Regions from separate parts of the Homo sapiens genome. Here region 2 is linked to region 1. Evidence: fine-mapped expression QTL. A gene starts in region 1. The other region holds a variant in brackets. All regions are shown on one strand. Distances are from middle to middle.

Region 1 (2,867 bases):
GGTTTTGGGGAAACCAAGTAGATATATATATATGCACAACTGTAGTTTGAAAATGAGTATGTTCCCATTGATCAAAAACTCTTTTAGGTGGAGTAAGGATTCTGTGTCTTTTCATTCATTCAGAAGCATTTGCTTGCCTAATCTACTTTATACATGTCACAATAAGAAAGCAATCATTAGAAGGAAAATGGAAGGTTTTAATCAGTCTTAAAACCTAAATATAAATGAAGAAAAACATTACAGGAAAAATGCTCTATTTCTCCATCTCTCCATTCCCCTCCCTCTCTCTCTTACACACACACACACACACACACACACACGACAATCAGAAGAGCATCTGGCCATTCATTCATGGTACCCAGATTTGTGCTTCTTGGTCTTTAACAGGTTTCTCAGGATGTCCCCACATTCAAACACTCTGTGTGGCATCTATCCTGATCTTCAACTTAGAAAATATACTCATTATTCCTTGTAAGTAGAACTCTGCACAGCTGCATACAGAAGAGCGTCTCGGCAGGGAACAGTGCAGGTTCACAAAGGGGCCGATAAAACATATAATTTTAGCTTTGGTAATTGCCCTTGAAGATTACAATAAGAGGAGGAAAATAAGGGCCAAAGAAACAAAAGATTTGCCCGTGATTTGATAGCTGGTTTCGTCACATATTATGTTGCTTATCCCACAGAATGTGGGAATCCCAGAAAGCGCCCCGTTTAAATTTAGACCGTATTTTTAGCAGGGTCCCTTTAACAGAGATTGCGGGAACCTGGGAAGGAACTGAACTGGGCTAACCAAACCGGTCGAAATGAGCACAGGGATTAGATTAGAGCACAGAAATTCTGGCTAGCAGTCTGAGAAAGGGGGCCAAAGCCAGCCCAGAGAAAAGGGAGGTTGCCTGGGCCAAAGGCTTTCTGACAGGAGACACAATAGGGTCGTACCTCTGGGTCTTACCTTCACTGAGGTTTCTACCCGACAGGTTTAACTGGCCGCTCTTCCTCGCTGCCTTCAACAGCCCTTGGGGTACCGAGGTACCGCAGTCTCTTCCACCTGCTTTGAAACCAGCGCGGAGATCCTGCCCCGCTATCCGCTTCAGGCGCGACATGTTCAAAGTCCTAGGTCCAGAAGCTGCAGCCCCACCCGTGACGCTTAAAGGTGGCGCCGTTGGGATGCCCCGCTCCTTTCGTGAGCGCGCGCTCTGGGCGCTGGGCTCGCGGCCTCGCGCTGGGCCTTCACTCTCTGCGGCGCAGTCCAGATGTCGTCAGCACCAGCGCCTGGGCTGGAGGACAGAGAAGCCTTTTCCGTTGCCGGTGCCGGCCTAGCGTCCTGGAATTACTTCAATCAAGTAAGTGCGTTTAACGGGCTTAAGAGGGGCTTTCGGGTTTATTGTTTGCACTGTTACTGCGACTCCAACCTTCTCCTCTGTGCTTCCACCGTGGCGAGGGTGTGGGGAAAGAGAACCCTCTCTTCTCCCCTCTCCTAGTCTGAACGTGGGCCTTGACTAAAACTTGAGATCTGGGCGCGGTCGGCAGCGTTTCTGGACCCCAGCCTGTGTTTGTCGCTTGTGGTGGTGGCGCCAGACCTCTGGCGTACGGAGTAAAAGAAATTTTCTGTTCTTAAGGCTTGTACTCTGACACCATTCTCGTTGTATTGAGGGTATATAGCTTACCCAGCAAAGGAGGTAATGTGAAATGGAAGGACTGGCAACATAGAAGACAAAAACAAAAATCCTTAAAATTTAATAAATGTTCTGTGTATCAGACAGTTTAGGGAGACAAGTAGTGGTACATGCTTTAGTGAAGCTCAGACAGCTTGGATTTTTGAGCCCTAAAAAGCAAGTTCAAATCTCAGCTGCTTCTTTACTTTAGAAACTGTTAACTTTAGGCAGTTTACTCAACCGCTTTTAAAGCTCATTCCTTTTTTTCATTACTTTGGGGATAATTCCTACCGCATAAGGTTTTTGAAATAAGTGAAGATAAAAACTAGAATCTTGAGCTCTCGGTGAGTCCAGAATAATAGCAAATGAAAATTTTGTTCAATGTAAGTCGGTGTTTCCTAGGAAATTAAAATTTTCATCTGAAATGTACAACTTCTTGATTCAACAAGTAATTATTAAGATTAATCCTGCCTAGTATGTGTACTATCCTGGGTGCTAGACTTTTCTTTTGCCTGAAATGATTTTGTTTTAAAAGCATATGCCAGGGAATACCATTCTAACCCCCATCAAGTCTACTGAGGATTGGTAGAATAGTTGAAAGCTAGGATGAAGGCCCTTTGATCAATTCTTCATCACGCACTTTTACCTGAGTCCAGGTTATTGCTACCTGTAAAATTCGGTTTTTAACTCTACCCTTTTTGTTCTTATTTCTGTGGAGTCCTTTACACTAATATCGAACAAGAGAAAGTTACCAATAGTTGTTACCCTACTAAAAAAGCAAAGAGTGGATTTTTGTCTTTTTTTTTTTTTTTTTTTTGAGACAAAGTCTGGTCTGTCGCCTAGGCTGGAATGCAGTGGCGTGATCCCGGCTCACTGCAACCTCCGCCTCCCAGGTTCAAGTGATTCTCCTGCCTCAGCCTCTCCAGTAGCTGGGATTATAGCCGCGCACCACCACACCTGGCTAATTTTTATATTTTTTAGTAGAGACGGAGTTTCGCCATGTTGGTCAGGCTGGTCTCGAACTCCCAGCCTCAAGCGATCCGCCCAGTTCGGCCTCCCAAAGTGCTGGGATTACAGGTGTCAGTCGCCGTGCCCAGCCTGAGTTTTAAAGGAAAACGACCGTAGCAGCTTTTGCAACGTTATTAATGAGGTCCCTGGTCAGCTTGTCTTCACAGTAATGGTAATAGCTGCCTTATTGGGCCCATACCAGGCTCA
Region 2 (2,923 bases), 400 kb before region 1:
TTGGTTTGTTTATTGGTTTGTTTTCCAACTCATTAATTTCTACTTTCTACTGCAGCTATCATTATTATGTCCCTTCTTTTACTTTCTTATGGTTTACTAAATTGTTTTCTGGTGCTCTAATACATTTGGGACCTTTTTATTCACCGTTGTTTTTATTGAAATACATTGCAGACTACATGGTTTTGATGATACTGAGTTCTTATTAGTTATTGCCTTTCACATTGTGGCCAAGTATATTGTTAATTTTTCAAATGTTTCTTCTTGCTTGTAATAAAAATATATATTCTTTTATTATTAGGTATAGGCTAGAGATCTACTAATTGTACACTTTATTCTCCATTACATTATAAACTTCTCTAAGACAAATACCACATTTTATGATTTTTACATACCTGGAACATTGAGAGTACCCAATACTTGAAATATTTACCTTCTTGGAACATTAAAAACACCTAATGAGCTGGAAATAAATGAACTGGAAAATGAAGTTTTGATCTCTTATGTTCAGTAAAAGATATTCTTTCTTTGAAAAAATAAGTATATTAACATTGAACTTTCTAAAGAAATTTTGGTTAGTTTTACTAAAACCTGGTTAGCTAGCCAGCTATCTAGAGGAAATATATAAATATCTACATTGCATGTAAATTATTCTTCCTTTCTAAATTCTTTTTGTTCCCTAATTATATGCAGCAATTTATAAGTAAATGCATCAGCTTTCTATGCCAATGAATTTTTGTCCATGATTCCTCTCATCTTAATTCAACAGTAAAATAAAACTCCTATGTGCATCAGAGATGAATACATTTCATGATATTATGATTTCTAAATAAGTAGTCCATGCATGTTTGTGGAGACAATACCTGGTCATAATGAAGTAAATTGTTTTGTTTTGTATGATAAAGCACCATAATGAATTATAAGATTTAATTAGGCAGTGATTCTATTTCAAGTCTGATTGTTGATTTGTCATTGCTTTATAGAGACTACGACACTATAATTTAAGGACTTTAATGAAAATGAATTAATTTGAAAGTGCTTCTAATTCTGCAGCAATTAAGTGATTTTTCTCTCATCCACTAAAACTTATTTCTATACAAGAATGGATTTGCACAGCATCATAGTGGGAAAAAAATCATTATTGTTAGTTATCATGAAAGGCAATCAGAATTGAAGGCATTATTATGTGTTTTACCAACTTGCCAACTATTCCACCCCTTCCCTCAAATACATGCAAAACACTGAAGACAAATCATATCCTCTACTTGAAGGATAGGAGGCGGACTTTTTTTCTCTCAAATAGGCTAGAAAAAGCATATATGGGTAATCAGTTAAATGATAGAAATCTTTAAACATCTGAGCACATTACTCTTGAGACTCTAGTAGTGTATACATTATAAATTCATAAAGGGGTCTACTCTGTGACGCCTTGTGTCAGGGAGAAAATGGTACCATGCAATTGTTCTCAATAAGCAATAAATGTGTTCTCTGGTGTTTGGCAAACCATTACACCATTTATTTAGAGTAAAGCTCATTATTTTATTCTATTAAATATCTCACTTTCAACACTGTTAATGAGTTATTTATCTGAAATGTGATCACTAGCACTTCTTTCACTTTAAGACTACCTTCCCTTTGTACAGAATCTACTTCTCCTCTGGG[T/G]TATGGTGTTAAAGTAAACTGAGGATTGACTCCTTCTGTTTCCATTAAAGAACATCATGGTAACAAAACCTAGGTTTTTTTATTATTATCATTTCCTCCTGCCACCTTTTCAGCTTAATGCTGGAACTTTTAACTCTTTCTAATATTTTCATTAGGACATAAAATAAACAAATAATGCCTTATGTGTTTCACTAGCACTTATTCCATGGGAGATAAAACTTACAATCTGGTTATGTACTAAATACAAGGAAGAACACTTCCTCACCCTTTTGAAATCTGTCTTGGGCTCTTTTACATAAACTGATCAATTTTCCTAGAGTTGCAGCAGAGCTAAGTGATGAACCTGTCTTCCATGTCTCAGTAGATCCTTAAAAAAAAATTAAAAGAGCAAACTTAAATGGGCAATGAAGCATTGTGAGTCCTTCCTCTACAATGCCATGCTACCTTGCAGCTTCAGTGTAAACTCCTTGAAAACAAGAATGAACGTTACCTTGTTTCTAGATCCACAATAGCCCCTATCGATGTCCAGGCATAGTGAGTGCTCAATAAAGTGGTAAATTGATAAGGAAGGAAAAATTCATTTGTCGAGTATGAAGCAAGATTATTAAACAGTTCATTTCACATAAAAGACTCAATGTGTTTGTTGTTGAAGCAGAGAGAGAGAAAGAGAGCGAGAACAAGAGGAATTGAAGTGTCACTTAAATTAACTCATTTAGACTAAAAGTCAAATTCATTCCCATGTGAACTTACTGTTGGCCAAGGTCATAAGCACTCCTCAAAATTTTCCTCAGATGTGTTTGTAAGGCAGAATCAGTCGTATGACTCTCTCTATTGATTACCAGCATTTGGTTTTTCACTTTACAATGCTACTAAAATAGGCAGAGTCTTGCCTATTTTTTCTTCTAGTATACAATATGTTTGTTTCCCTTCTGAAATCTCCCTATAATCTGCACTTCCTACTCAATAGAGTATTGCCCCATTTTTAATTTTGTTTTAATCACTGTGGTCATAAATTATCCTAGCAATGTTTCTTATTGCATTACCATGGTTAAATGAGTGTAATCAATGAAATTTAATATATCTGTGTTGACTTGAGTTCATTATGAGTTTGGTATTGAACTTTCTTTTTAGTGTATGTGGCTGTTTGCCTATACACCAAAATAAGAATGGTAGACATGAAGATTCCTGGTGTCAGCTTTGTCATTTTTTCCATCATCTTCTCTATAAATGATACCATCAGCTATAATTGCTTCAGGCTGATACT

The links. PIP is the estimated chance that this variant, and not a neighbour inherited with it, causes the effect. A credible set is the group of variants that fine-mapping cannot tell apart.
Region 2: its variant is the best candidate, but not a certain one, in a credible set for the expression of LRRC40 in blood mononuclear cells (TOPMed, PIP 0.79).

What each region holds. Positions count from the first base shown.
Region 1 is chr1:70,204,441-70,207,307 of GRCh38, forward strand. LRRC40 (leucine rich repeat containing 40) reads right to left here and starts at 1,139. Exons shown (of 15, transcript NM_017768.5): 1 at 950-1,139. The coding sequence starts at 1,100. It also overlaps a transcript of SRSF11 not described here. RefSeq lists enhancers at 733-792, 1,053-1,362.
Region 2 is chr1:69,803,983-69,806,905 of GRCh38, forward strand. The region is part of intron 4 of LRRC7 (leucine rich repeat containing 7); the gene reads left to right. Among named protein-coding and RNA genes, the nearest start is that of LRRC7-AS1, 240 kb to the right of the region's middle. The variant T/G (reference allele first, on the strand shown) is at 1,660.